Linked DNA regions of Homo sapiens: regions 2 and 3 are each linked to region 1. Evidence: fine-mapped expression QTL. A gene starts in region 1. Each other region holds a variant in brackets. All regions are shown on one strand. Distances are between the middles of the regions.

Region 1 (2,753 bases):
CCGTTCACTCTCAACGGTGCCCCAGTTAGGACGGTAGACTATCTCATCACCACTATGCGTGAGGAGCCTGGGAACATGGTCAGAACCATTTTACTCATACAAGTTTGCAGAGGCCTTTAAAGCAAGCCTCTTGGCCCTCTGTTATTGAATGCTGGCCTCTGCTAGGTGCTGCAGGTAGCAAAAGATAAAAGATGTCGTGCTGTTCCGTGTGGACAGGAGCTGGCTATTTAAAGTGGAATGGAGGACTCAAGTACATCTTCATGGGCAGGGAAGAGATCAAAGGCTGTGGACGACGAATACAGAATTATCCTCTGGTCCACCACGTAGCATGCATGCAGAGATAAGCCACTGTGACCAGTCACATCAAGATTCATAGACTTATGCCTAATTTAGAGAACTGACTTGCCAGGTTTGTAATACTAACTTAATAGTGGGTTTTCTGCTGCTGGTAGTGGTGGTTTGGCGGCTGGAGAGCACTGCCTTCCAGTGAAGCTTTGAAAGAGCCGTCCCATGCCCTGCCAACTGTCCAAGACAACTGACAGCAGATCCGACACCTCCATGTAGACACAGATCCAAAACTCACTTTAAAATACTAATCACAGAAGGGGCCGAAAGCAGTCACCATAGTGGCCCAGGAGAGCAGGATCAGTGGTGCCCTGTCGGACATGGGAGAGCCGGTGGCGGCGCTGTGCCGCCTACGCCAGCAGCAGATTCAGCTGCCATCACCAGGTTAATGACCGAAAGCCCGCCCCCGGGGCTCAGCTCGGAGCGCGGCCGGAGGACAGCGGTCCCCTCCTGGCAAGGGCACGGAGCCCCGCAGTGGGCAGCGGCCAGAGGACCCGGGTCCCAGTAAGCGCAGCGCCCGCCGTGGGAGCCACAGCAGCTTGGGGCTGGCTCCCTCCCCAGGCGGAGACTGGGGTGTGCCCCACCGACCCGACCCAGGCTCCCGGGCCCCACTCACCGGCTTGCTGGGCGGCGGCCGGCGCAGTCGCCGCCGGGCGGGCAGCTCGGGCTGGCGGAGGCGGCGGGGCTCACGGCGCGCACGCCGCCCGGGCCCTGTGTACACACGTGACCGTCGGCCCCGCCCCCGGCCGGCGAGCGGCAGCCATGCCTGGCCCCGCCCCCAGCCTTGGTCCCGCCCTGGCCTCCGCCCCCCGGCCCCGCCCTCGCGGCTAGACCGCGGGGAACCGCTCGGACCAGTGAGGTTGGGGGGCGGTGGCGGTGGAGGCAGTGCTGGTTGTGTAACCTGAGACCAGCCATTTGACGAACTCGTGCGAGATTCCCTGTGGGAGGACACACACCCAGGGCTCTGGGAGTTTTTGAGAATTCTCTTAGTGCCCAGCGCGGTTTCTTTTTACAGGCGCTGGTGCCTATTTTGCTGAGTCAGAATATACCCTAATCTGCAGGGTGCAGGCCCCACCGCCCTCCAAAGGAAATGAGTGGCTGCAAGTTAGTCCTTCCAGGTACACCTGCCCCTCTTTCTTCACCGAAGTTTGCTTGCTGTTTCCAAAGTCACCAATTACTTCCTGGTTTTAGGATTTTCTTTGTAAACGGAACACTCACAGGAAAGCCGTTTAAAGAAACACATTGCTGCCTGATTACTTTTGTAGCTATTGTTACAAGTTAAACATTGGAAAAGTTGAAACAAGGACATTTACTTTGCTGTAATTTTTGAGGTGAAACAGTCCCCCCTGCAGCACATTCTGGTTCAGGATCTAAGAACATTTCTGAAAATCAAAGCATGTGGGTTGCACAGTTCCGCATAGACTTGCTGTGAGCTGCGGGCCGAGTGGAACACCAGCAGGAAGAATAGCGGCCACTGGCCCTCCGCTGCATGATGCTGTGGCCTACTGTGTTCAGGGATGTACCTCAGCCACCTTCCTGGACAGGACGGCTTCCTGACCGTGGGTCGGAGTGGGACGTCGGGATCAGCTTTCTATTCCAGCGGGAGGGCAGGGAGAGGCTCACCACGGCCCACGCCTGCTGATGTGATACTGACTTGCTGCCCAGCCCGGCACCAGGTCCCTGGCACAGTGGATGCAGCCCGGGCCCTGTGTGCCCAGAGGTGCCGGGTACTGATCTTACTTGCCAAAGTCAGTCACAAGCAGCCAACACCGATACCTGAGGGCGTATTCTGTGTCAGGTTCTGTTCTGAGCCTCAACCATTGTTTTGAGGTAGATACGTCCGTATTTCATCAAACCTAAGACACGATTGATTAGTGTTAGCTATGCCATTACTTTATGGATTACTAAAAAGAAGGCCCTCTGCCCACTGCATTCCGACATACTGCTGATTTTAAGGCGCAGCCTCACATTAGAGATGATAAAGTGAGAGTACGCCTTAGCGTCAATGAGATAGGTCACCATGTGCATTTTAATATTTTTTTTTTTTAAAGACAGAGTTTCTGTCATGTTGCCCAGGCTGGAGTGCAATGACACGATCTTGGCTTACTGCAGCCTCAGCCTCCTGAGTAGCTGGGATTACAGGTGCGTGCCACCATGCCCAGCTAATTTTTTTTTTTTTTTTTGTAGTAGAGATGGGGTTTCACCATGTTGGTCCGGCTGGTCTCGAACTCCTGACCTCAAGTGATCCGCCTGCCTGGGCTTCCCAAAGTGCTGGGATTACAGGTGTGAGCCACTGTGCCCGGCCATGCATTTTAAATTTAATTGTGAAAACTTAAGCAACTTAGCCCAGGTCACACTGCAGGCCGTGGAGCCAGGATTTGAACCCAGGGGTATTCTGGCTTTTTAGA
Region 2 (2,753 bases), 62 kb before region 1:
GGAAGAACTTGCAGACTGTACGTCACGGTGGTACAGTTGTGGGGAGAGAACCCCTAGTGTTCATAAGATTGTCAAAAAGAGTTCAGAGCCCTGTCCAGTAGTTCTGTCTTGTTGACTGAGCTTTTGGCATGTGCTTTGCAGCTTGTGGGCAGCATGGTGTTGGAAGCCACGGCGAATTCTGTGATTGGGAGACAGAACCTTCATCTCATGGTCTTATTCTCTGTAGAGTGGGAAGAAGCTACCAGCTTCCCTGGGTTAAGAAGCAGGAGGCAGAGTCATGTCTGTTGGTGGTTCCACAGTCACTGGCTTCTGTGTAGTGGGTTCTTGGTAAATGGCAGTTTTCTCTCTTTTTTGCAGATGGGACCGTATTTGTTGACCCGTGCATAGCTGGGTGTCTGTGAGCGCATCATGGGCTCTCTCCCATTCCTAGGCGGGCTGTGGAGTGCCCACTGAGCTTGGGGATAGTGGGTTGCAGACAGGGCTAAGCGGCAGTTTTTCCGGGTGGGTGTTGGCCTTGCTCACAGTGCACATGGACACATGGCTTCCTCTGTGGCTCTTTCCCTTCCCCGCTTCTCTTCATGGTCCTGCAGTACAGAGCATTTGAGCTTCCTTCCTTCCCGGAGTCGAGTCTGCGTTCCTTCCAGGCAGAGCTGATGCTGGGCGGGCAGGCAAGGAGGCTGGTGCTGGCAGGGCTGCGCTTCCCCGTGGCCTGGTGCAGTCCCAGCAGGACCTGCTGTTGGGGGCTCCTGGCCGTGGTCACGGTGGGCAGGGAGCCACATCCCTCTGTCCGGCCTGGCTCTGCACCACGGTTTGGCTTCCTCTTTGTGTGTTCACCTGGCCCAGCTGCCCTTCGCCACTGCAGAAACAGCACGGAGGGAAGGGGGCGGCAGATTCAGACTTGAGGTCAGTTGGTCTTTTGGGAGCTGGGAGCACAGCCAGGGATTCCCTCCGGCAGCACCGGCATCTTCTCTGGTTTCTTTTCTGGCCGCACCCCACAGCCAGTAAGCCCTGTCTTGTCTACCTTTGAAATACACCCTGAGTGGGGCCCTTCTGCCTGCCCCAGGCCCGTCACCCTCACCAGGCTGCACCTGTTCTCCCGCCTGCCTGCCTTTTTGCTCATGTGGGCCGGGCTCCTCCTGACGTGTCAATCCGTCTATGCTGCCAGCAGACTCTGTGGAAGCTCTCGGCCCCTCCAGCCTGAGTCTGGCCCCTGCCTGCCCCTCTCCACGTTGATCCCCTCCTGCATCCTCTCCCTGCCACGCTGTCCTGGCCTCTCTTGGCTCTGTCCTCTCCCCCACACGGCACCCAGAACACAGGGGCCCTCAGAAGCGCTGGAAGGACGTGTCTCTGGGGTTTC[G/A]CTCTGGCTGGGTCTGGATGGCCCTCTGATGCCCAGACACACACACCCTTGAGTCTGTGCAGGGACCAGGTGGCTGTCTCTGTTGGGCAAGTTGGTGGTGGCATCCGCATGTGGAGAGTCCGCGTGGCTGGCAGAGCCCGACAGCTGAGTGCTCGGCCGGGCAGTGTGCGGGACTCGAGGATGGGAGCGGTGAGCAGCGGGTAGAAGCTACTTCTGCAGCATCTGCATGATGCATGCCTTGGAAACACTCTGCATTTCCCGTTCGTTTCCTAAATAAACAGCATCGAAATCATACAAGGAAAAGTTGAGCAAGGAAAGCAACTCCCTCTGCCCCTTCACCTCTCTCCTCTCCCCTCCGTGTGCTCCTCTCTGTTCCTGTGATATGGACGCGTCTTTCTGACACGGCCGAACTCTCAGCATAGATTTGATTTATACATGGTCTTTTAATATCATTCTTAATTTAATTTTAAAAACAAAGCCTTTTCCTCCTCTTTTTAAAAGTAAAACACACCCATTATGAAAAATACAGAAAACATGAAAACATTTAGAAAGAGAAATGTTAGCCAAGCGTGGCGTGTGCCTGTAATCTCAGCTACTCAGGAGGCTGAGGCAGGAGAATTGCCTGAACCCGTGAGGCGGAGGTTGCAGTGAGCCGAGATCACACCGCTGCCTTCCAGCCTGGGCGACAGAGTGAGACTTCGTCTTAAAATATGAATAAAATAAAGAGAAATATTTGGTACATTTTCACATGCTTGTAATTTTTTTTTCTAAGTATTTTTAAAAGCATGGCTGGCCTCCTGGTTTTGCACATAGTGTCACCACAGTAATCTGTGGAGTGAGTAACGATCAGCGTCTCACAGTTCATTGATTCCTTTGCTGCTTTTGAGACTGAACCACAGGCCACCCCATGAGGCAGCCCCTGTTGTTCTCAAGCACCTGCTCTTAGAGGCTGGGGCGTCACCCTCGGGCTCCAGAAGCCTGTTCCACAGCCGGCCGGCGGCAGAACCGGGCCAGCACCCTGGGTCTCCTGACTGAAGCTGTTTCTGGGGCTGTTGTCTTCTTGGCGTTCGAAGGGCATGTCAGTTGGTCACCATATTGAAATTGCTGGTCACAGTATACGTTTGGTATTTTAAGCTGAAGTGAGATTTTATTCCAGAGGTGCCCAGAGCCTGTGGCTTGTCCATGCTCCTGCCCTGGCCCTTTTACCCAGGATTGTAACACCTCTTCCTTCATGACAACTATTTTTCTTTTATAAAATTGCGATACATAGTAAGAAAATAGAGAGTGCAGAAGAGTAGTCTTCCTGTCTGTCCCTCTCTTCTACTGCGATTATCTCCACTTCCTGACTGTTCAAAGGAAGCCTCTGAACTTACTGTTCTCAGTTAAGTGAACTAAC
Region 3 (2,753 bases), 35 kb before region 1:
GCCCGTCCCTGGGTGGTCAGCCCCTCCCTCCACCCAACCTGGCGGCCGTGCGGCTGCACTCTGCTCCCGTGATCAGACTCCCCGGACCGTCACGCGGGTGGCACCTGTGCGTGTGCAGCCTCCGAGCCTGGCTGTCCCCGTGCCTCCTGCGCTTGAGATGGTGTGTCACGTCGTGCACACCAGGTGGCCGTGGCTGCTCGCCACTGAGCACGGGGGGCTGTGCCGCGGTCTGTGTCCCGCCATCGTGGGAGCGACATTTGAGTTCTTTCCAGATTGTGTCTATTATAAAGCTGCTTTAAATGTTCACATACAGGGTTTCATGTGAGCGTAATTTTATTTTGGGTGGATCGCTAGGATTGGGCATCGCTGGTTCTTACAGTGTGTGCACATTTAGCTTCATACAAAGCTGCCAAAGTGGCCACTCTGTTTTGCGTTTCTGCCAGCACCTGTCCTTCTAACCCCAGGGAAAGCAAAGGGTCCTACTGAGCCCTGGAATTCCCTGGGAGGAGGGGTTGGCCCTTCACAGTCTGTTTTGGTGGCCGGTTTCCGGCCAAGAGCCAGGGGCTTGTGGGACTCGTTCCTGAGCCACGCAGAGGGGCTGCCAAGGTCAGGTTCGGGGCCTGGGGGAACTCCCCAAAGCCGGGACCTTGAGAATTGTGTGTTCTTGACGGCAGCATGGGCCCTCGCTGCTTAAACAACCCTTCAGAGAGGTTCTAGAAAGCATGGGCGCCACTTCTCCAGGGCTGCTTCCCCAGAGCTGGGAGGCCGGGGACTCCAGTGGTGAGGGCTGGTGGCTCCTGCAGGGCCCTGGACCCTCTGGAGGGCATCTGGGAGTCACCCCTGCCCCTGAGCCCTCCCAGCCCCCGCCAGGGCCTGCCTGCCACGGGGCCCCTCAGAGGAGCTGCTGCCCCTGCCACTTCCCGTCACACGTCTACATTGGGCAGGGAGGGGGGTTGTGCAGATTCCCTCAGCACGCTGGTTTATTGAATGTTTTCCCGGCCTCTTCCTGGGTTTTATTATCATTTTTAATGGATAAGTAGTTATAGGCTGTGGTGGTAGCTCACGAAACCGTCTCCCCAGCGTAGACAGTTGAGTGGCTTCTGAACTGCTTTTCCAGACCTGCGCTTGTCTTTCATACCATCCCAGGATGGTTCACACGTCACTGTTTCTGTGCAAAAGCAGCATAAGCTTTTGAGGTCACAATTCTCGTGTGATTTGAGGTGTCCCCATAGGGAGGTGGACAGCAGACGAGCAGCCGGGCGTTGCCTGCCTGGGGACCCAGGATGGCTGTGAAGGTCTGTGGCCGCCCCTCCGCAGCCTCAGGTGTGTCCCTGTGGCCTGCGGATGTCAGCTTCGAGTGGCTTGGGAGGTTTGTTTGCGGCTGTTGACTTCCTGCTCCTCCCGTAGCCACCTTTGTGCCCTGCTGGTCTTGTGACCCTGGCCCTCCCTCTCCAAAGGCCTCGCTGCCTCCTCAGCCGGCCATTCACCAGCAGTCTTGACAGAGCCCTGACCCGCTGCCTCGCTGCCTCCTCAGCCGGCCATTCACCAGCAGTCTTGACAGAGCCCTGACCCGCTGCCTCGCTGCCTCCTCAGCCGGCCATTCACCAGCAGTCTTGA[T/C]GGAGCCCTGACCCGCTGGGGTGGGGGATGGAGCTGAGTGTTTGGGGGAAGGCTGAGCTGGGGCTTGAGGGGGCACCTGGCCAGCCAGAGCCAAACAGGTGAGCCGCAGGCTCTGCTTCACTCCATGTGCCCCTCACAGAGCTCCCAGCCTCTGTCTGGAGCAGGCACTGTCCCGGGGTCCCAGTGGGCAGGTGGGCACATGGCCTGGCTATGAGTTCTGCATGGTTGTAAGGCAGCGAAGCCCAGGTTTTCACTGGGCCAGCCTGTGATCCTGCAGACTAGCCAACCCCCCGGGAGTGCATTTGGGCCCTGTCGTGAGCATCTTGGTGGGAGTTTGAGGAGACGAGATGAACCGGCGTGGGGGGCGTTAGGCCTCGCCTGTGGTCACGGGAGTGTGGGGTGCAGGAGCATCTCACAGGACTCCCACCTGAGCGCAGCGCCTGCCTTGTGCAGAGCCTGGCTGGGGTCCCTGCTTGCTGTGGAAGATTTAACCCCAGGTCTCACGGGGCCCCCTTCCCAGGCCTCATGGGGCCCCCTTCGCAGGCCTTCGTCTTCTGGGTGGGAAAACTGATGTGCCTGAGCCCCCCCCCACCCCGCAGCTGGTGGAAAGAATCCTCCATTCAGGTTTCGGGCCCTGTGAAAATATACGCTCTCCAGGCGTGCCCACTATAGGGCACCCGCTGTGCTCTGCCACGCGAACTGTCTCCACTTCCTTGCCCTGCCGCAGAAATCCCACCATAGCTGCATATCTGGCAGCTGAGCCAAAACCCTGACGTGTTTTCTGACTGTCCGCAGACCTCGTCCAGCTCCGTCTTCAGGAGACAGGACTAGAGCCACCGTGAATCTCAGTCATTTCCAATCCCAAACGCTGTAAAAATACACCGTATTTTCTTTTATTTAATGGGGCCAATCTGTAGTATAGAGAAGCTTTCGTTTTAGGAGAGAAACTTCCCACCACTGTGAAGTTGCTCCCATGTCCCCGCACACACGCCCAGCGGTCACGGAGCAGTTGGCGGCAGAGGACGCCGAGGCCGCGCTGGGGCTGCTGCTTCCCAGAGAAAGTACACAAAGCATTTCCCTCTGCCCAAGGCCAGCCGTGGCACCGAGGCCCGCCCTTGTGTCTGTCCCGCGCTTCC

What was found. PIP is the estimated chance that this variant, and not a neighbour inherited with it, causes the effect.
Region 2: its variant is the best candidate, but not a certain one, in a credible set for the expression of GPR146 in whole blood (TOPMed, PIP 0.56).
Region 3: its variant is the best candidate, but not a certain one, in a credible set for the expression of GPR146 in whole blood (TOPMed, PIP 0.90).

Annotation. Positions count from the first base shown.
Region 1 is chr7:1,042,867-1,045,619 of GRCh38, reverse strand. GPR146 (G protein-coupled receptor 146) reads right to left here and starts at 1,074. Exons shown (of 2, transcript NM_001303473.2): 1 at 962-1,074. The region is part of intron 2 of CHLSN (cholesin); the gene reads left to right. RefSeq lists silencers at 575-624, 805-1,294 and an enhancer at 1,400-1,955.
Region 2 is chr7:1,104,942-1,107,694 of GRCh38, reverse strand. The region is part of intron 2 of CHLSN (cholesin); the gene reads left to right. Among named protein-coding and RNA genes, the nearest start is that of GPER1, 18 kb to the right of the region's middle. The variant G/A (reference allele first, on the strand shown) is at 1,358.
Region 3 is chr7:1,077,804-1,080,556 of GRCh38, reverse strand. All of the region lies in intron 2 of CHLSN (cholesin), which reads left to right. CHLSN-AS1 (CHLSN antisense RNA 1) reads right to left here. Exons shown (of 3, transcript NR_187853.1): 3 at 2,495-2,753. Among named protein-coding and RNA genes, the nearest start is that of GPER1, 8.9 kb to the left of the region's middle. The variant T/C (reference allele first, on the strand shown) is at 1,618.